2 linked regions of the Homo sapiens genome follow. The protein of the gene in region 1 purifies or fractionates together with the protein of each later gene. This does not show direct contact. Each region holds a gene or a part of one and is shown on either strand. Other genes may lie near its edges. The genes, in order: ATP13A3 and AGPAT3.

Evidence for each region.
Region 2: the proteins of ATP13A3 (region 1) and AGPAT3 purify together in Homo sapiens (co-immunoprecipitation; 2 studies listed by BioGRID and IntAct, with this or other methods). This does not show direct contact.

Annotation. Positions count from the first base shown.
Region 1 is NC_000003.12:194,475,249-194,486,742, forward strand, and holds part of ATP13A3 (polyamine-transporting ATPase 13A3), read right to left. Parts: 5' UTR 11,318-11,494; intron 11,300-11,317; exon of another isoform or gene 11,168-11,299; intron 10,989-11,167; exon of another isoform or gene 10,706-10,988; intron 10,588-10,705; 5' UTR 10,546-10,587; intron 7,851-10,545; exon of another isoform or gene 7,734-7,850; intron 1-7,733. UniProt on the Homo sapiens protein: ATP-driven pump involved in endocytosis-dependent polyamine transport. Uses ATP as an energy source to transfer polyamine precursor putrescine from the endosomal compartment to the cytosol.
Region 2 is NC_000021.9:43,867,573-43,879,066, reverse strand, and holds part of AGPAT3 (1-acyl-sn-glycerol-3-phosphate acyltransferase gamma), read right to left. Parts: intron 1-11,494. UniProt on the Homo sapiens protein: Converts 1-acyl-sn-glycerol-3-phosphate (lysophosphatidic acid or LPA) into 1,2-diacyl-sn-glycerol-3-phosphate (phosphatidic acid or PA) by incorporating an acyl moiety at the sn-2 position of the glycerol backbone.

The sequences.
Region 1 (11,494 bases):
TATGGTTCACTTCAGAATTACTGTGCAATTTGAAACAAAGCAAAATTAGTTTTCCTCATGATCTACATACACTACAGAATGATTCATATTTCACTCTTCCAGATTCTGATTTGAAAAATCCAACCACAAAGAAGCACAAAATCACTAGGAAGCTATTCTGTACAAAAAGTAAAATCCTGCAAATGTATAAATGTAACTCATAGGTACTTGGGTCAACTTTAAGTTACATGAATTTGGGTTTTTCTACTTGAGTCCTTTGTCTAATCTGAAACCTACCCACGCTAACCCAGCATAGACAATGCAAAGGCCGTAACATTTACATTCAACAAATACTTCAAAAATACAGTAATATAAGTTGCTATTGAAGAAGTTAATCACCTTATTCACAGCACAACCATCATAAAAATGTTAACTTTCTAACCTCCTATGACTGTCCTGTATGCCACTATCCAGGATTTAAAAAAAACCACATACACACACACACGCACACAGACACACCCCACAATCAATGTATTTAGGCACTATAACAACCACAATAGTGACGCCTGTATGGGAATATTTAGTTTACACAACACTTTGATGGGCATTATCTACTCTTACTTACCAGAATACTGCCTTTCAAAACCAGGAAAAAATCATCTTCACTTAACCAAGATTAGTATTTTTCATTTTCACCAGAAAGTCAAGCATGGGGTGACTTTACATCAAAAAGCCTTACCAACAAATTTAAGGAATGACACGTAGGCAGCACCATCTTTCAAGGAACAAAATTCATTTAAAAACCAATTCTTACTCCACATGTACTTGAAATGCATTTCTCCATAAGGAAAATAGTGTCTAGATTCCTAAGATAGCCCACAAATGCCCATTTTACCTCTTACAACTCTGCTGAGCTGCAGTTCACATTACACTAGCCTGGGTTGCTGGGCAGGTAGCCAGGTTACCAAGCCTCCATTTCCTCTGCCCGCTTCTTAATTTTCCTATTAATATTCCTCAGGCTCTTCTCTTTGTAACAATCTCATCAGGGGTGGCACTACTGGACCATCGCGATGGCAACTACCAATTCACATTTTCAGCACTAATCTCTCATGTGCTTCAGACCCACAGATTCAACTACATGTTTGCAGACAGCTAACACTCAATAGGTTCATTTTCTCTTTCTTCCAAAAAATCTGCCCCACCACCCAGCCACCACCAATTCCCCCTACTCCTTTAATGAGTATGAGTTGCCTAAAAAGCCAAGCCAGGAATTTAGAAGTCACCTTCGAACTCTTCCTATCTCACACCTACATCCAACCGGCCACTCATCTTTTGACTACCCTTCTCAAATCCACCTCACCATGCCTATCTCCATCAGCTTTGCCTTGATTCAGGTCCTGAGCCCTCGTCTCCCTCATTCAAGTCTGTATGCAGCCAGATATGACCATTTCCCTCTCTACATAAAACTTCAGTAGCTTCCCGTTGTCTGTAGTAGCAATTCCCAAACTGGTAAAAGAGTACCTTCAAAGTAAGTTGTTGTTTTTTTTTTTTTTCAAAACAATTAAATTGAACTAGATTAAATAATATTAAGCAGGCCTCTCACTAGCAAAGTTTTGAAGTCTTACAACGCACAACATGATGTATTTCCCTGCCATGAGGAACTGGGGCGGAAGGGAGCCTCAACTGGGTTCCAAGGTCAAAGTCAAAACTGATTGCAAGACATGTAAGATCCTACAGACTCTGGCCCCGCCTAGTTGTCAACACCATCTGCCATTCATCAGTGGTTATCACTCGCCCCTTACAAACCTTACATGTCATTCATTTAGAACACAATCTGTAGTTCTTCAAAGAGCCCTACTGTTCCCTGACTCCACTTCTTTATATAGAATATTCCTTCTGCCAAGAATGCCCTTCTCTTAGTCTGGCTAAAGAGCTCCTACTTGCTCTTCCAGGACCAGCTCAAGCTACTAAGCTTTGATTGTCCCTTCCATCTCCTAGCAGAGGACTGCCCCCACCTTTCTCCCACCTCTGCAGGTATCAGAGCACTTTTCCAACAACGTTGAACTTATAGACTAAAAACCTTAAAGGCTGGGAACCAGGCAAGCATCCAGCAGTGCAGCTGAATAAAGGAGACAGGGCAAGACTGGGTGAAGGAGGGGTGGAATCCCTCTTCTTTTTGTGGGCAAAATTTGACAACAAAGTAATTTTGTCTTTGGCATGCTCCCGCATCTCATCCCTATTCCCCTTTCCCAGCTCTCCCAATATCCTGTGTTCCCAGGTCCCTTAGTGACCTCATGGAACTCTACACAACCTCCACCACAGCACTATGTTCTTCAGATCAACCCTTCCTCTTCCTCTTAATCAGGATCCTTCTGTTCAGAAGTTAACACATAAATTAGTGACAGCTTCTCATAGCTGTTAACCTAAGATGAATCACTAAGAAACAAAATTTTAAAAGAAGTATGGAGAGGATATGGGGAGTGGACACTCTATCGCACAGAAAGACTGGCCCAGAAGCATCTAGGAGTCTCTTCCTGACTGGGCCCCCCAGAAGTGTTTCCACCTCACTTCATCCACTCCTACAGATTAGCTGCAGTGAGTGCTACAGGTAGAGACAGAGCTGGGGCAGACACTACCATCCTACAGATCATCCATTCTTCTTGGGTTGAATACCTCTGTGTCTTTGTTTTAGTTTGAGACCACTTATGGTTAATTCTTCAGCAGACAGAAAGTTCTCACCAACATGTTCACCAATGAACTTAAAACAGTGTCTTCACTCTAGCCAAGCAGTTCCCTGAAATCTAACCCCAAACTACTGCTTGACTAGAAAAAGGTAAATTAAATCAGAAAACCAAGATGTTGTCAAGTATCCTAATTTTTCAGATAAATCTGTAAATATTAAATTAGCATTCTAGCAATAATCATTCTGGTTTATTGCCAATTTGATTTCATAAAAACTCATTTGTTAGAATGGTATTGCCTACCATGTGCCAACTAGTGGTCTAAATGCTGGAGGTTACAAGATTAAATTTCTAACCTTAAGGAACCACATCTAGTAGGCTAGACAAATAAGTAAGCAAACAAATATCAAACAAAATGGTGACCAATGGCACCAGGGAGAAAGAGAGAACCAAGAACAGAAAAGACTTCAAAAAAGAACTATCTCTTGATCTAAGACCAGAAGGATGTAAACTTGATCAAGCAAACAAGCAGTAAGAGGAAAAATGTTAGGGAGAAAATAGAGAGATGAAACCCAAGCAGGGGAACTGCCACATGCAGAGGTACTATAGTGAGAGATCCTAAAAAATGCCAGGAAAACAAGTTATTTAAACTGACTGGTGCACGGGGTGATAGCCTTTGAGGAATAATTACAAATGGAGGTTTAGAAGGATAGGACAGGATCAGATTATAAGGAAGGGTCTTGTTAGACATGATAAACAATACAGATTATCTTGTAGGTGATGGAGATTCTGAACTTTTGTCACCTGAAAGAGATCCTAGGCCAGGCCAAGGAGCCATATTCCTGAAGAATACAACGTGAATGGTATCCTCTGGACTTGTGCAATGCAACAGCACAGTGTTTACCTGCTGGACTGTGTATGTGTAAGAGAGAAGAACTCATTCATCGATGTCTCCCCAGCATCCAGCCCTGTGTTTGGCATGTACAGGAACTAAAACACTATTAAATAGTTAGAAGTACCAACACAGTCCTAAAGGCATAACCAAGAGGCCCTAACCAAGCCCCCTTCCTTGCTACCTATAAAATCACAACTCTTATACACTACAATAACTTATCATTGCCACAACTATTAAGGGAACATGAAGAATAGTGAGTCACTATGGGCCGCACCAGAGATTAGAAAGGATTGGGGCGGGGGGTACTCTTTAAGATGCTTCTGAATCTGACTAAATTAATGAGCTTATTCTATTCTCTTCATCAAACACTGAACAGAAAACCATGGGTTAGCTTAAAATTATTCTTCAACTAACTCTAAGGCAGTGCTGACAATTATGAAAAGTACATTTTCATATCAAAAAGACCCATTAAATATTTCAATTAAGCGTGTGCTAGGTTAGTCTAGTCTTTCAAGTAAGTGCTACAGACAAAATTATGTCATTTGCCTATTGTACTTTACATTTTACTTAGTATACTAATCTACTTATTATAATTAGCATTAAATAGGTTTCTATCTTTTGTGCTTAGGAAAATTAGAAACATAAACATTAAAAAAAGGAGAAACAAGGAAACTACAGATGAAAATTGTAAATGAGCTTAGAAAACTGGTGACTTAAGAAGCTAAGGCATGATCTAGAGATGAATGAAAAATCTTTGGTCTAAAAAAATAAAGTAAAATAAAATAAAATTTAAAAAAAAGAAAAATCTTCGGTCTATAAGGAACCAGTGACTAGGATTCCATGTTTAAAGAAATCTAAAGGTCACAAAATTGAAATATAATTCAAAGTCTTCTTTAAAAAAAAAGTAGAAATATTTGACTAATCAGAATTTTTAAATGAAAATAATGCATATAAAGTCCTATAAAATAAATACAATTACAGATAGTTTTAAATTTTATAAGGTGGTCAGAGACAGAGACATTGGGTAACAGTAACAAGATGGGAGAGAAAACAGACTGCAAACACACCAGAGACACAAAGAGAAAAACTAAAATATACATAAAATGTATATCGGAGATACATGAGGTTAACATCTTGAGCTTTTGAGGATGTTGCTACTAAAGATACAAAATCATAGATTGTTTTGGACATAAAAAGCCTGAATATAACATTATTGCCTGCTGTTCCAGTTAACAAAAAAACAAAGAGCAATCATCAATCACACCCCACACACACATCTGACTTGTTTTGAATATCTTCAATGTTACTAAGTTAACAAATAATAAGTTACCCTTCACTCAGACTCTTATCCTTACAATTCTCTAAGGTACCCTTTATCACCTCTATCTGGCAAATAAAAAAGCTCTCAGAGGTTCAGTGACTTACTTAACCCAGACTACAAGACTGGTATGTGACAGAGCTGTAATTCAAAATCACTATGGCTCTGAAGCCCACATTTTTATCCAATACACCATGCCCTCTCCCAGGACATAAGACTGTTAAGTTTTTAGCCACCATCATGTTTTTACATACTCATGTTTTCTTACTGTGCTATCCCCAGAGTAATACTTAAGTTTAGATACTTTAAATTTCATGGAATCCATTAATAATTTACATCGCTCTTTTAAAACAATGCAGATCTTGCTAGCAGTAAGGAATAAATTTATTCTTTAAAAAAACAAAACAAAAACACTCAAAGTAGTTGAGTATCCCCTCAGAATGACAGACAGTACCAATAATCTCCTAATATTCTCAACTTTATTACCTAGCCTTTTAATTATACTAGATCTTTTTGTGGCATAACCTTACGGAGATAGCAGATGTTCATAAATACCTAAGTTATTTCTCCATTATTCACACTGTGGAGTCACATCATATATGCACTTAATTAAAACCAATTCAACTACTTACACTCTGGGGGGAAGCAACAGAGAAAAATAATTTGAATAATGATGATAGTATGCCTTCCTTTACATCCCTGTCCCAGAGTGAGCATGAAATGAAGACTATAAATCCGCTATGCTCAGTCAATCTAAGACCCATTCACCTGTCAAAACGGTCTCACACAGCTGGTGAGGATTCCAGCTCACCAAAAAAGGGACCTCTCTAAAACTACAGGAAAAACTGGACACTAGAATTGAAAGACAGAATGTCAGTTTCCAACCAGTTTTCAAACTGGTGCCTTTTTAAAAGACTTTTTCCAAGGGTAATTTTGACTACACAGGATTTTTATCTGAGAATTTAGGCCCAAAGGCCCCATGAGCAGTGATTGCACTTTATTCAGCTCTTTAGATCAATCAGAAAAAAATCAGGACCCAAAACACTTGTCTTTTATATCAAAATAAATAACTAAAATATATTTCATCCTATTTCACAAATGGAAAAAAAAAAAAACAGAGCAACAGGGATGCTATGAAGAAACCACCCTTAGACACATATGTGGGAGCAATTCCATGACTCATTTTAAACAAACTAAAAATAGTTTGTTTCAAGAAGTCTGTCAAGCAAGCAAAGGCAACCCTTAAAAGTTGGCTCTCACTGGAAAAAAAAAATGCAAAAGTTTTGAGATGTGCCATTACTACAGAGTACAAAATTAAAGCAAGGGTGAAAGGAACACCCAAGCTAGAGAAAGGATCTGGGGTTAGACCATAAAGGATCCTTTATGCTGTCACTTACTTCACTTTCCTCTTCTCTAAAAAGGCACTAATCTAAATAATCCATGATCTCTCCGCATTATTTTCCAGTCTCACACCTCTTTATTTCAATGTTCAACTCCTTTGTGAAAAAAAAATAAGAAAAACTCACTGAGCTAGAACCATCTTTCACCTTACCACCCAACATCAGTTACAAGTATTTTTACTTCAAACTTGAGAAAGATTCTGTAGACATCAGCAATTTCCAGACCACATAATTAGGAAATTCTACTTTACATACTTAAGTGACTTTTTCTGGAAATTTAATTTCTTATCTAACTAGTCTCTGAGTGTCAATTGATCATTTAAAACCAAGATCCACAGGGAGTAAGTGTAAGAATCAACAAAAAAGACAAAATTCTGATTAACAGATTAATTTTGCGGTCTTGACGTTTACTATTCGAGTTAATGTTTTACCATCTCAGACTCTAGCAAAGGTTCCAATATGACCCTGTGGGTCTAAGATGTTAACAGATATGGTATTGGCATAGTTCCCTCTAGAGAATCATTTTATGGAAACTTTTCAGCAATCACCATCCTCAAACAACCTTCCTCAGTGTCAGACACTTATTTGGACAGTTCTCTCCTTTATTCCGTTTTTCTCCCTTCTTACTGATTACCATAAAGTCATTTTTTAAACTATCATAACAGTGATCATTTTTTCCAATTACCATTTACTCATGTCATCTCATTTTACCTCTATTTTTAACCTGATTAATACAAATTATTTTTGGTTGTTTTAAGACAAAGTCTTGCTTTGTCACTCAGGCTGGTCTCAAACTCCTGGCCTCAAGCCATCCTCCTGCCTTGGCCTCCCAAAGCACTGGGATTTCAAGCATGAGTCACTGTGCATAACCTACTAACACAAATCGTTTTAACTCCTTTTATAATCACTAGTTATCTAGTGATAACTGATTAACTGTGGACCTTCTTCTACCTTACAAATATCTACTTTTCTCCAGATTAATTTGAGCCCAGAACTTTTTCATTTTTTTAAACCTAAATCTTAATTAAAATTATGTGCCAGAAATCTGAGCCTCTCTTACTTCTCTACTCTCAAAATATGATGTTCAACAAAACTCAAACGAGAACCTAACAATTTCCTTGCTTCTTGCATGCTATTTGAACTTAAGTGGTTAATTAGAACATGGTTTTGGCTGGGCAAGGTGGCTCATGTCTGTAATTCCTACACTTTGGGAGGCTGAGGCAGGAGGATCACTTGAGGCCAGGAGTTCTGAGACAAGCCTGGGCAACAAACCGAGATACTCATCTCTACAAAAAAATTTTAAAGGCCGGGCGTGGTGGCTCACGCCTGTAATCCCAGCAGTCTGGAAGGCCGAGGCAGGCGGATCACAAGGTCAGGAGTTCAAGATCAGACTGGTCAACATGGTGAAACCCAGTCTCTACTAAAGATACAAAAAATTAGCCAGGCATGGTGGTGGGCACCTGTAATCCCAGCTACTCGGAAAGCTGAGGCAGGAGAATCGCTTGAACCCAGGAGGCGGAAGTTGCAGTGAGCGGAGATCGCGCCTCTGCACTCCAGCCAGGATGACAGTACAAGACTCCGTCTCAAAAAAAAAAAAAAAATTTTTTTTTAAATTAGCCAGACATGATGGCACACACCCGTTGTCCCAACTACCCTTGTTGCTGAGGCAGGAAGGTCGCCTGAGCCCAGGAACTCAAGGCTGCAGTGAGCCATGATCGTGCCACTACACTCTAGCCTGAGTGAGAGAGCGAGACTCTTTCTCTGGGGGGAAAAAAAAAGAAAAAAGGACGGGGTGCAGTGATAAATGCCTGTAACCCTAACACTTTGGGAGGCCAAGGCAGGCAGACTGCTTCAGTTCAGGAGTTTGAGACCAGCCTGGGCAACACGGTGAAAACCCACCTCTACAAAAAAAAAAAAAACTAGCTGGGTGTGATGGTGCACACCTGTGGTCCCAGCTACTCTGGAAGCTGAGGTGGGAGGACTGCTTGAGCCCAGAAGGTCAAGGCTGCAGTGAGCCATGACAGAGCCACTGCACTCCAGCCTGGGAGACAGAGCAAGACCCTATCTCAAAAAAACTCAACATGGTTTTGACGACTACAGATTTACTCTCTCCATAGGCCAATTAGCTTCATTTTCACAAAAACTATGTTCCAAAACCAAGGCTAAATCCCATCAGCTACCTCTTGGATCCAGATGAGATATGGCATATTCAGAATACATTCAGAGGTAACACCAAGAAGAAATTTAATTTCTAATTTCTTCTGGCTACTCCAGGCACACTGCCTATCGAGCAGCCCTGTTCTGCAAGAAGCAGTATTAAAAAATGTTTTTAAAACTTTAAAAAATAAGAAATGTGATTCTAAGGAGGGAGAGAGAAGGGAGAAAAGGATGAGTACAACATATCTAAGAGTTAAACTGAGCTATATTTGAATGGATGATAAATGGAATAGGAGTTGGCAGCTTATCACCTATCAAAGAAAACAGTCAAAACAGTTCACAGTTGTGTGCTAAAAGAAGGTGATCTAGTGTGTGACACCTATTAAGATGACATATCTGATTTATCACCAGAATCTGAGGTTCAGAGATGTTATGTTGCCTAGTCACATACAACTAACCTTATAAACCCAGAGACAGAAACCTCTGTGTTAAGCACATTAACACAGAGCTAGGTTTCTGTCTGTCTTCAAAGTCGCTTATACTGTAAGCTCCTTAACTTCTTTAATTTTTTTTTTAACAAAGAAGAATATTGTTACCTGAAAGTGTTGAGGATTAGTTGAGACCATATGTAAAGAAAGGAGCACTTTTCCTGGCACATAATGGTTTCTTTCCTTCTTCCATTCCATATATTGAATCAAACTATGCTTGTATAACGTGGTGGTTTTGTAACTACTGTGAATATGAGGTTTTAGAATATGAATATGCTTTATTCCTAAGATAAATAGTAATCTTAGGACATAGGCACTATATCATATTACTATGGATATACAACCTACTCAATGGTCAAACTCAGTGAGAATAAGCAGTGATGGGGACGCCCTATGGAACTTTATCTTTATTCTGTCTTTTTTCTCAGTCTCAGTGATGTTGGAAATAAGAACTTTATACTTGTGAATGACAACAAAGTGGTTTATAATCTCGAAAATCTTGAAGACAGAAATAGGATTTCAAAATGAGCTCGATAATGTGGTTTATCCAAAGCGGATTCTGTGTGTTGTATATTTGGTGACCTAAACTAACTATGTAAGTATCAACCGCCAAGCTCGGTGGCTAGCGCCTGTAATACCAGCACTTTGGGAGGCCTAGGCAGGAAGATCACCTGAAGTCAGTAGTTCACGACCAGCCTGGCCAACGTGGTGAAACCCTGTCTCTACTAAAAATACAAAAAATTAGCTGGGCGTGGTGGCACACACCTGAAATCCCAGCTACTTAGGAGGCTGCGACAGGAGAATCGCTGAAACCCAGGAGGCAGAAGTTACAGTGAGCCGAGTTCACACCACTGCACTCCAGCCTGGGCAACAGAGCAAGATGCCATCTCAAAAAAAAAAAAAAAAATTTAAAGCAACCAAATAGTGTCACTTTTCCTACCCAATCCCCTGACCAAAGCCAGGCATTGTTGTTCTAACAAGGCTCAAAATCTCAATTATTTCACTCTCTGCCTGATCTAATGGTAGGATAATGCAAATCAAAGATACCAGCAAAAGTTATGTTCTACAACAATCATTAATAATAGGTTTACTACTTCGAACAACTTCCAAGCACTGATTTGCCTTAAAGGGGTTGCAAACCAGGATGAGATGCCCACACACATTGATTTTTGGCAACTGTAGTCTATTAAGCAAAGCAACAAACCTCTAGAGAAAATAATGTCACATATATTCCAGTGAAACAAAATTAATACATGTACCTTGGTAAAGAGGCTGAGCTCTAACCAAAGATAGAGCACTGTTCATTACGTACTCACCCTTCAAAGGAATCAAATCGAAACACTTTCATTTTAACAACGATACTTTTTAAAGGCTTTATTTTGCAATAATCTTTCAAGTCCCTGCATTTCTTAGATTCCTTAAATTCTAACTTCCTGCCTCATAGATCTAAAGTAGCCATGACATACCCAGGTATGTTCTACTCATTTAGTTAGAATCGTATAGAGGAACACAAGTCTGTTTCTAGGTGTACGACTCCACACCCATTCATTTTGCACTAATATAACCACTAAATATAGCTCTAAGACACTGATGATTAAAAGCGGCTAATTATGTGAGTGATTCATACCTCCTATGTCCAAACACCAAGATTCAGGGATGTCTGTCAGATCTATGGGAAGAGGAAACAATAAACACCTGTCACAAAGCTTCTTCCACACCGGGAAGCCCCCAGCTGAGTTCCTGCCAATCCCAACCCGATTCCCTCCCCCTTCATCCCTACCCCTCACCTCCCCAAAAAAGCCAGAGGTCATACTTCCACCAGAACCTGACTCTGTGAAGGGAATGGAGAGACAGAAAGGCCATAGCGAGAGTGGCCACGAGAGCACTGCTAGGGCAAAGGGCCCTGGGTTTTTCTAGTCCTCACTGCCACAGAGTCCGAGTGGGAGGCCTCAGGCAAGTCAGAAGTCACTTTTCCTCCACGGGACTCACTCCTTTTATCTGTGAAATGCGGAGATGGCAAGCAGCTCCATACTCCACGGCTGAGGACGAGCTAGGGTCCCGCACAGACTCATCGAGGGCCCTGCCAGCACCCCTACGCCTCTGCCCACAGGACCTCCACCTCCCACAGGACTTTCCGAAAGCTCTGACTACCAACCACCAAGCGCCCGGCCCCCACGCTCGCCCCCGGCAGGCGGCGCGTCCCCCCCAGGCCTTCGCACCCACCGCGTGGGCTCCTGCCCTGGCCTCACCTGCCCCCGACACTCCCCGTCCCCGCGATGCCCAACTCCGGCCCGAGAAGGCTGGCCGCGACCTCGCCCGGTACCCGCCGCCCCGACACCACCATTCGCCTCCTCGACCTCCCCCGGCGCCGCTGCCCACCCGCCCCTCGCCCCGCTCACCGGGGCCGCTCACTGGCCGCCGCCGCGCCGCCTCCTCCGCGGCCTCCCTCGCGGCCGGACCAGCCCCAGGGACCGCGGGGGACCCGGCCGCCGCTGTCGCCGCCGCCGCCTCGCCTCAGCCCAGCCCCATCGCCCTCGGCCGGCGCCGCGCGCTGCGGCTCAGGGTGAGGGAAGGAG
Region 2 (11,494 bases), on another chromosome or scaffold:
CATGTTGAATTTCAAAACTAGAAGACAAGCCAAGCGTGGTGGCTCACACCTGTAATCCTAGCACTTTAGGACCCGAGGTGGGCAGGTTGCTTGAGGCAAGGAGTTTGAGACCAGCCTGGCCAATATGGTGAAACCTCATCTCTACAAAAATTACAAAAATTAGCTAGGTGTGGTGGCGTGCAACTTCAATCCCAGCTACTCCAGAAGCTGAGGCACAAGAATCGCTTGAACCCGGGAGGTGGAGGTTGCAATGAGCCAAGATCGAGATTGCACCACTGCACTCCCGTCTGGGCAACAGAGTAAAACTCTGTGTCCAAAAAAAAAAAAAAAGACAAATGGAAATAAAAAACTATTAAACATCTACAACAGTGTCATTCTTTCAAATACTACTGGTGTGAGTAGAAACAGACGTGATCTTTGCAGAGGGTAAATCAGCAACAACGTGTCTAACGTCTTTGAAATGGCAAGACCCTTTACTCAGCAATCCACCTGTAGACTTTACCTTCAAGACATTGACTAGAGAAGAACTGTACAAGGATGCCCATCATATTTATAACTGGGAAAACGGAGCGGCATCAGTGTCCATTGACAGGGCTGGCCACAGCTGGCTGTGTCCACACAGCGGAGCCCAGTGCAGCCCTCCCTCGAGGGGGCAAATGGGAAGGTCAGCAGTGCAATGTGAACTGAAGCGGGCAGGCCGCAGAGACAGAGCCACGACGTGACTCCGTTGTGCATTAAGTGTGTGTGTGTATCTAACTCACACTCAGGATAGGAGCAGGCCACCTCGGCAAAGTGACATCCAGGTCGAAGTCACCAGGCAAAAGGAGAAAGTGTGTTCCAGGCAGGCTAAAGTCCAAGGCAGAGTGTGGCCAGTGGGGCAGCTTGAAGACCGGGTGTGGGGGTGCAGAGCGTGAGGTCGGGGGACACTGACATCAGCAGGCGTCATCACGGGTGGGGGCTGAGCAAGCAGTGGCGGGGAAAGCGCAGGGCCACTGAAAGGCTGCCTCTTGTTCTGTGGGGAACAAGTGTGATGGGATCTGAGCTGGAGCGACCCCACGCAAGACCACGGGCAGTCTCAGTCGAAAGCGAGGCTGGTGGTGGGGCAGGAGGCGGGCAAGGGGAATCGTGAGGGTCAAGGAGCCATAGATGGGGAAGGGGGTGTGGGAGATGGAGGAAGGGGGTCATAGATGGGGCCCAGGTTTCTGTCCTGGACACCAGTGGAGACAGAAGATAGAGGGGACAAGATGGTGATACCAGAACAACGATGGGAATGGGCCTGCTGGGAAGATATCCTCAGCCAGATCCCAAGAATAGCACCATTTCAGCCAGGCGCAGTGGCTCATGCCTGTAATCCCAGCACTTTGGAAAGCCAAGGCGGGCGGATCACCCGAGGTCGGGAGTTCAAGGCCAGCCTGACCAACAAGGAGAAACCCCGTCTCTATTAAAAATACAAAAAAATAGCAGGGCATGGTGGTGCATGCCTGTAATCCCGGCTACTCAGGAAGCTGAGGCAGGAGAATCACTTGAACCCGGGGGGCGGAAGTTGTGGTGAGCCAACATGGCACCATTGTACTCCAGACTGGGCAACAAGAGTGAATCTCAAAAAGAAAAAAAAAAGAATAGCACCATTTCAGGTGCTTCCTAGTCTTTTCCTTCACATTTATTTTCTACTTTTGAAACCTCACATGCCCTTTAACTATTACTGGCATATGCCATGTATATGTACAGCAGTTCTTCAGCTACCGAATACAAGTCATCTGAAGAAAGCCAATTGAAATGGCAACCTAGTCTGCCTGTGCTAAAGCAGCAGAAAGCATCTCAGGTGGGATGGGTGACAGGGAAGTCGACAAAAGGTTAAGTTTATAAGGACAAAATCTGAGTCACATTTTGCAATTGTTAAAACTGGTGGGCTGGGCATGGTGGCTCACACCTGTAATCCCAGCACTTCGGGAGGCCAAGGCAAGCGGATCCCCTGAGCTCAGGAGTTCAAGACCACCCTGGGTAACATGGTCAAATCCCATCTCTGCTAAAATACAAAAAATTAGCTGGGCGTGATGGCATGCACCTGTAGTCCCAGCTACTCAGGAGACTGAGGCACAAGAATCACTTGAGCCCTGGAGGCGGAGGTTGCAGTAAGCCAAGATCGTACCACTGCACTCCAGCTTGGGCAACAGAGTGAGACTTTGTCTCAAAAAAAAACAAATAAAACAAACAAAAAACAAAACAAAACAAAACAAAAACTGGTGAAAAGCATTTGATAATGACGTGCTCAGTGGGGAGGCTTCCCAGCTTTAAACACCCTGGAAATTACACGTTGTCCTCCACCAGGTAGTTTTAGAGTGAGAAAAAATTTCCCCCCAGACAGCCTGGTCATTTTGGTATATCTAATCTGTGACATTCCTTCTACTGTTCATTACGGTTTCACTCATCAGGATTTATGTAGATCCACCTCCACCATCAGCAATTTCTTCAATCTCAGATTTCTGCTGTAGGATCACTTTCCATCTAAGTCAATTATGTCTTTAGACATCCCCTTTGTGAGCCCAGGAAATCAGCCTAAAGTAATTCTAGATCAGTCCCACTCCTGGACTCCTGGTAGGAGCAGGGCTTCTCCAGGGAGGCTTTGCTCCCTTCAAGCCTTGCAGGAATCCACAGACAAAGCCCATGTGAAATGAGCCCACAATCCAAAATCACAAAGTGTGTGACAGGCAAGGATCAGGGAGCAAGAGGTAGCAGAACAAGTGGCGGAGTCCAACCCTCAAGAAATTCAAATTTTAGTATTTGTTAATATTATTATCGGTATTACTTTGGTATTATTAGTTACAGTATAGAAAATAAGTATGTTTAGACATAAAGAGAAAATAAAAATAAGTGTAAGGAAAAGAATACCAAACAAGAGGAGAGGCAAACTTGGAAAAAAACAAAGAGAACTTTCAGGAATGAAAAATATAACTATTAAAAAAATGAAAATTAAAAGAACAGGTTAGGCTGGGCATGGTGCCTGTAATCCCAGCACTTGGGAGGCTGAGGTGAGAGGATCACTTGACCTTGGGAGTTCAAGACCAGCCCTGGCAACATAGCAAGACCCCATCTCTACCAACAAAAAAAAAGAAAAAAGAAAAAGAACAACAATAACAGGTTAAATATTAATAGCGCAGAGGCTGGGCACGGTGGCTCACACCTGTAATCCCAGCACTTTGCGAGGCCAAGCCAGGTGGATCACCTGAGGTCAGGAATTTGAGACCAGCCTGGCCAAATGGGTGAAACCCCGTCTCTACTAGAAATACAAAAATTAGCCGGGCATGGTGGTGGGCACCTGTAATCCCAGCTACTCTTCAGGCTGAGGCAGGAGAATCACTTGAACCCAAGAGGCGGAGGTTGCAGTGAGCCAAGATTGCACCACTGCACTCCAGCCTGGGCAACAGAGCAAGACTCCATCTCAAAAAAAATGTATACCTATTTAAATAGCACAGTAGATGGAGATGAAGATAGAGTTGCTAAATTGGAAGACAGCTGAAGAAATAACCTGGAATGAAGCATAAAAAGACTGAAAGGTAAAAACATGAACGAGAGTTTAAGTGGCTGGGAGGATGGTATGAGAAAGCAAAGCATAAGGCAGATGCTGTATGGTTGACCCTCCATATCTAGGGGTTCCACATTTGTGGATTCAACCAACTGTGGATCAAAGATATTTGGGTGGAAAAATTCCTAAAAGCAAAACTTGAATTTGCTGCTCTCTACTATATTAAATCCACATTAATGAAGTTATATATAGGCATTGTATTAGATACTATAAGTAATCTAAAGATGATTTAAAAATACACGGGAGGGAGGCCGAGGAGGGCAGATCATGAGGTCAGAGTTCAAAACCAGCCTGGCCAATATGGTGAAACCCCTTCTCTACTAAAAATACAAAAATTACCCCAGGCGTGGTGGTGGGCGCCTGTAATTCCAGTTACTCAGGAGGCTGAGGCTGGAGAATTGCTTGAACCTGGGAGGCGGAGGTTACAGTGAGCCAAGATCGTGCCACTGCACTCCAGCTTGGGCGACTGAGTGAGACTCCATCTCAAAAACAAAGAAAAAAATACATATATGGGAGAATGTGCACAGGTTATATACAAATACGACACCATTTTATATCAGGAACTTAAGCATCCACTAATTTTGGTATCCATGGTGGGTTCTGGAACCAATCCCTAGTGGATACCGCAGAATGACTGTATTGAACAAAATAATGGCTGAAAATTTTCCAGAATTGCTGAAAGACATGATACTTTATCTTCAGAAAGTACAATGAATCCAAAACAGGATAAACAAAAAGAAATCCATGCTAGAAAGACCACAGTCAAGTTGAAAAACACCAGAAATAAAGAGACTATAAAAGCAGCCAGACAAAAAGCTTACTACTGACACAGGAAGGACAATTGAAATGACAGCTGGCTTCCTAACCGCAACTTTATAAGCCAGAAGATACATAATAGAATTCAATCCTTAAAGAAATGCCAGAGACTCAGTGCTATACAGACTATATCCCTCTGCCCATGAGGCTTTTCAGCTGAAATCATAATAAAAACAACCTAAAATCCTCAATGCCTTTGGACATAAATGCATTCATGGGTCATGGAAGAATAATAAAATTGTAAAATGCTGAACAATGAAAATATTACATATCAAAATAAACAAGACGACAGTACAGCAGAACTAAGTAGGAAAGCTACATAGACTTAAATGCTTATGACAGGACCGGGCGTGGTGGCTCATGCCTGTAATCCCAGCACTCGGGGAAGCCGAGGTGGGCGGATTGCCTGAGGTCAGGAGTTCAAGACCAGCCTGGCCAACATGGTGAAACCCTGTCTCTACTAAAAATACAATAGTTAGCCAGGCATGGTGGCACACGCCTATAATCCCAGCTACTCAGGTGGCTGAGGCAGGAGAACCACTTGAATCCGGGAGGCGGAGGTTGCAGTGAGCCGAGATCACGCCAGCCTGCGTGACAGAGGGAGACTCTGTCTCAAAAAATAATAATAAAATACTTATGACAGAAAGTTGAAAATTAAGAAACTAAGCTTAGAGAAAATAGAAAAGAAAATGTTTCAATTCAGTAACCTAGAAAGAGAACACCAGAATAAACCCAAAGAGTGTAGAAGGAAATCCTGACAATGAGCAGAAATTAGTGATACGGAAACAAAGACACAGTGGAGAAAATGAGTAAGACTGATAGCTGGTTCTTTGTGAACACTAATAAAAAAGATGAGCCTCTGTGAGATGAATCTAGAAAAGAAAGGTAAAACCATTTTAGGAATGAAAAGGGTGATTTACTGTCAGATATAGTAGAGATTTAAAAATTAAGAAAATATTCTGACCTTTGTATCAAGAAACTGACAACTTGGGCTGGGCGCAGTGGCTCACGCCTGTAATCCCAGCATTTTAGAAGGCCAAGGTGGGAGGATCACCTGAGGTCAGGAGTTCGAGACCAGCCTGGCCAACATGGTGAAACCCCGTCTCTACTGAAAATGCAAAAATTAGCCAGGCGTGGTGGTGCGCGCCTGTAATCCCAGCTACTCGGGAGGCTGAGGCAGGAGAATCGCTTGAACCCGGGAGGCAGAGGATGCAGAAGCCCTGTGTTCTCCTTCCAGGTACTAGAGCCGGAGTCCTCAGGGCACATGGGTTTTGCTGGTGCGCGTGCTTTACCTTGATGAAGTCAGGTGCTGCATACACTTCTGCGGCTCACTCCTTCCACCCAGCGTTATCCTCCGGAGGCGCACACATGTTGCGGCCTGGAGGAGCTCCTTCCTTCCCCTTTCCATGGCGAATGTAGCACGAGGTTATTTTTCATTTTATTTGGAGACAGGCATTGAGAGAGCTCCCGGGGTCTGACTCCAACACCCATGCCACTATGAGCACCTCAGCATGTCCCCCGGGAAGCACACGGCAGGTGCACCCGCCACTCGATGCCATCTCCCTGCAGCTCCTGCCATTCCCAAAGCAGCCACGCTGGCACCAGTGCTCTGTCTGCCCCCACATCTTCTCCAGCACTTGTCCCCACAGTCTTTTAAGTTTCGCCGTCCCGGCAGGGGGAGGCCGCAGCTCTCTGTGGTTTTGTTTCTGCGTCTTCCCGGTGACCCATGACAGTGGATCTTCCATCTCTCCAGCTCCTTGCTTTTGGGTCACTTTGTTTGTATTTCTCACACCAGGCCTCCTCTGCTTCAAGGAGGCAGAGTGGGACGATTCAGAACTAAACGGCCACTGTTTGTACCCACACCGGAAGGCAGCATGGTAGAAGCATTTCCCTAAAATCAGGAACAGGACAAGGATGGCCTGTCACACTTCCATACAGCCCTGCTCAGGAGGGCCTGGCCCAGGCAGCAAAACAGGAAGGAAAAATACGAAAGATATAAGGAAGAAACAGAGTCTTCACCACTCCCACATGACGTGAATGTCTACTGAGAAAATCCCCAAAATCTACAAATAAATTTTAAGCAATGGCAAGGTGATCAGCTGTTAAATCAATACCCAAAAGTCAACTGCATTTCTACAGAACACCAGCAAAGACTTAGAAATCAATAAAAATAAAAAACACCATTTACGGCCGGCGCGGTGGCTCACGCCTGTAATTCCAACACTTTGGGAGGCCGAGGTGGGTGGATCACTTGAGGTCAGGAGTTCGAGACCAGCCTGGCCAACATGGTGAAACCCTGTCTCTACTAAAAATACAAAAATTAGCTAGGCATGGTGGCGTATGCCTGTAATCTCAGCTACTCGGGAGGCTGAAGCAGGAAAATCACTTGAACCCGGGAGGCAGAGGTTGCAGTGAACTGAGATCCTGCCACTGCACTCCAGCCTGGGTGACAGAGCAAGATTTTGTCTCAAAAGAAAAAAAAAAAAAAACACCATTTACAAAAGCAAGAACAATAATAAGGGCACCTGGGAATAAATGTAAGCACAGAGTGTCAGGTGGAATGTGAAATACCACGGTGCTTTATCAAAAGACACCTCGGAAGACCTGCACAGTCAACTCTAGAGAGATAAAGGGCTTAAGCAGAGAAAGCAAACTTTACAACTTCTACAGAAAAATACAGAATACATTTGTGACCCAAGAATTGGGAAGAACTTAAAGTAACATGCAAAAGGCACTACCTAGAAAAGAAGGATGGATAAAATTATACATTACATTAAAACTATCTTTTCACCAAAACAAAAAAAGTGAAAAGATAAAACCCAACTGGGAAAAATATATAATGCACACATTACAGCCAAAGATGAACATCCTGAATCTATAAGGAAATATATAATATGGAAACTATATATAAGGAATAGGTGAGAAAAAGACATCACCCAAAAGAAAAATGGATGAAGCACATGAACAGGAACTTCACAGGGAAGGACACACATAACCAATAAATATGCAGGATGCTCACTTTCATCCAGCAGGCAGGCGTAAATCAAGACCACAACTGCACAACACTTTGCATCTACCAGCTTTGCGAAAATCAACAGCAATGCCAAGTGCTGACGGGTATGTGGATCACGTGTGTCCAGAGACATGGACATAGAACATTCCATGTAAACAGGTCAAGATTAGAAGTGCTTCTGGTAAATGTATGGATGCATTCTGAAAACATTATTTTTTGCAGGCTTTATCTTTGCATAGATCTTACGGGAGGGTCTCCCGTAGGCCCTTAAAGACACGTGGAGTTACGTTGTTTTTCCAATTGATGCTTATTCTCTTAGTACCATCTTCTCCTTTCCTCTAAGCATCATCAGAGAACGCTGTTTCCAGCAGCCATCCCTGAGACAGAGGCAATGATTCTTTTGGTTTCATCTGCACATAAATTCTTGGGATTTTTCCCCCTCTCTTCCTGCATTTTGGAAATGCGTGTTTTGTCCTCATTTAATTAGTTCAGTTACTTTGTTTCAAGAAATAAATACTGTAGCCCAGAGACTGTAAAAACAGTAGCCCCAGTTGAATTCAGTTGGCAACATTTGTAATTTGGCGTGTGCAGTTTGTTAAAAATAAATACATTGCATATAAAACTCCAGATACCTGGTTTCTCTCGGAAGACTAAAGATGGAGTCACTCTGGTCCTATACCCACCTGGCCCTGCTCAGCTGGGGGTCAGTAGCGGGTGGTCAGGTGAGCCAGACCCTGTGAAAGAGGCCTCAGTCTCTCACTCATGTTCACCACAGCCACCCCTTCATAGGCCTCATGTCTGCATTCTCACTTACCTTCCTAGCTGGACCCTGTCAGAATCTGTGTTTACGATTTTCCTGTATAGCTTTGTTCACCAAAAAGAAACATTATATACTGAATAATTCACTAACATTTATTTATTTGTTTATTTATTGAGATGGAGTCTGGCTCTGTCACCCAGGCTGGAGTGCAGTGGCACGATCTCAGCTCACTGCAAGGTCCGCCTCCCAGGTTCAAGGCATTCTCCTTCCTCAGTGTCCCGAGTAGCTGGGACCTATGCATGCGCCACCACACCTGGTTAATTTTTGGGTTTTTTTTTTTTTTTAAGTAGAGATGGGGTTTCATCATGTTGGCCAGTCTGGTCTCGAACTCCTGACCTCAAGTGATCCACGTGCCTCAGCCTCCCAAAGTGCTGGCATTACAGGTGTGAACCACCACCCGGGGACCCAATAATTCACTAACATTTAAAGAAAAGAAGTAAAAGTTACAAAGGCTTTGGGGCTCCAGGAAAATGCAATGCTAGCCTGGAGCTGGAACTGAACTGCACGACAAACATATTTTCTAACCAATGTTCTAGAACTTAAGTCATAGTAATAAGCTCCTGATTTAGAAAACTGAAAATAACCTGTGTGCACTGAAACACGTGTGTCCTGATCGCTGTAGTGCATTTGAAAATTCCCAGAACACCAGCACTTCGCCTCCCTGCACCAGCTCACTGCCAGCCACGGCAGGGAGTCCAAGGAGGACGGCTGTGGTTCGCTTCCTAAAACTAATCCAAAATCCCGCCCGCCCGTGCCGCATAATGAGTCACAGTTGGGATTGTCTTTACTGTTCCTTTTGTTTTTGTGGATTATCAAAAGTCACTAAACTTAGCCACGTGTGGTGGCAGCACCTGTAGTCCCAGTTACTGGGGAGGCCAAGGTGGGAGGATCGCTTGAGCCCAATAGTTTGAGTCCAGCCTGGGCAACACAGTGAGGCCCCACCTCTAAAATACATGCATAAAATTTTAAGTCCCTAAACTTTGTTTCTGAGGCCGCCATGGAGCTCTGCCAGAGAAAGCCGCTTCAAGGTGACAGGTGAGGAGACAGGTGAGCCACAGCCTCCTTGCTGAGACACCTTCGGGACCCCTTCAGGGGTAATGACCAAAGCGGGTACTCACGCAGGGCCACCCTGGGGGTCCACTTGGCACTGGGCTGGCTGTGCCTAACTCAGGGCTGGGTCTGAGGCTCCTCCTCCCCAGCACTGCTCCCTCCGCCTCCTCTCACGGGGGTCAGACCTGCCTGGAGGTCTGGTGCTCCCCCACCATCCTCTGCAGGGTTTCTTCCTGCACTTCCCATCTCATCGTGGCACCTGCTTCCCAAACTGACAAGTGCATAACCCAAACTGACGCGGTCTTCCTCTAACAATCTGACTTCTGTCTATTTTGGCAAAAATCAATGCTAGTACACCATATTTTACAAAGTATAACAACTGGTTAATTTCTCAATGCAAAAATTATGTGTAGCTCCCTAATAAAATGCACATTTGTTCACTCAATCAATCACTCCAATTAGACTAGGACAATGGCCTAAATCAGAAATCAATCTATGAAAAGCTTAACCCAATCATCAGCACATTCTTCACATGAGGAGTCAATAAACAGCTCTTCATTTTACTCCCACCAAGTGTACCGTAAAAAGCTGAGCATAGATGAATTTACGTCAATTGAATTAATTTTCTTCTTGATTCCATATCCAGCATGTATCTGTTTCTATCAATTCAGATGGAGATTTCAGAGCCCCCAGTCCAGCAAGTACGGCCTTCTACAAGTGAAAAGTGTTTAAATGAATACGTGTATGTGAAGCCAATGACTTAGTCTCCGTTTCAGAAATGTAGATTTTCATCTATTGGATCTTATGAGCATCAAGGTGGTTTGGTGGAAAGAATAACAGCTTTGGATTCTATTGGACCTTTGTTTAAATCTAGATTTGCCCAAGCTGAGACGCTGGCCACACTTCCCCACTCAGTTTCCCATGTCAGTGTCTCTGTCAGTTTCTGTGTGATGGGGCAATACCACTCTCCTTACAGGGATGTAGAGGAGCTTATAAAATAATAAGGTAAGCATGTCATAAAGCAGGTGACAGATTTAGTGTCAGGTCAGCTAATAGGACATGAGGAAGAGAACAAGAGCCAGCGTGGCTGCAGCGCCGGTACTCAGCTCCCAGCACCTGGCTGAGAATCAGGAGGGCAGACAGTCAGGGGTGAGTAATCGATCTCAGGACAGGTATTTCCTTGTACAGCTTGTTACTGCTGCTCATTTTATAATTCATCATTATTGTTATTTATTATGCATTTCATTCTCTACCCGCTTTCAGAAAGGAATCGAGACCATCTCCAACAATGATGCATAGCCTTCCCAGTCACTGGGGACAGGCCTCTGGGCTGCAGGCACACTGTCCCACCAAGAGCACCCAGCTCCACTTTGAGTCTTAAGTGACACAGGGCACGCTAGCCAGGAGGTAGATTTCTGCCAGTCACACACTGAAGGATAGTTGTGTTGCTTTCAATTCACCACCAGTAACATTTAAAACATATCCTATCTGCAATCCTTCTACCTAGGCTTGGGAAAAGACGTGGCCAATTTAACCCCAGCATCCATGCACCCTAATAGCCAGGTACAGACTTTGGCCCTGCAGAAAGAATGGCCAACTTTCACCATCAACTCGGCCTTCCCGCCTCCAAAACTAAACACAGACACTGCCCCAAGGTTATGAGACTGCCTGTCTCCTGCACTTTGCTTGACAAAGATAATCAAAACATGGCCGCTTGTAAATGACTACATGAAAGCCTGTCAGAAGGTGAACGATTAATGCACTTGCCTAAAATGCAGCGCTTTGAAATTGGTAATTTAGAATCAATCTTGAAATTATGATGAAGTGGTTTTAGGAAGGACAGACGCCTCGTGGTCATGTTACTTTACCACTTGAAACGACCCGTTTAAAACCCCAAACACTCTTCGGTTAACCAAAAGTAAATTCCCATGAAATTTCTGAGCAACTGTCTTTAGAAAACTCAGTCCAACTTTACTGTAACAAAAATCTTGCAATGAGATGGAGCAGCTAAAGATCTCACATTAAACAAGTCATTAAAAAGGAAACAGTCAAATGTAGCCAATCACGTCCCACGCTGCGATCTAGAAACACCAGTCCACCGGCGATACCTTATAACAGGGACATCACAAGAGTTTTTGACAAGGCCAGAGAGGGGGGGCAAAGCGTGGAAGCAGAAGCCATTGAATTTACCAGAGGTGGGTTTTGATGGTGA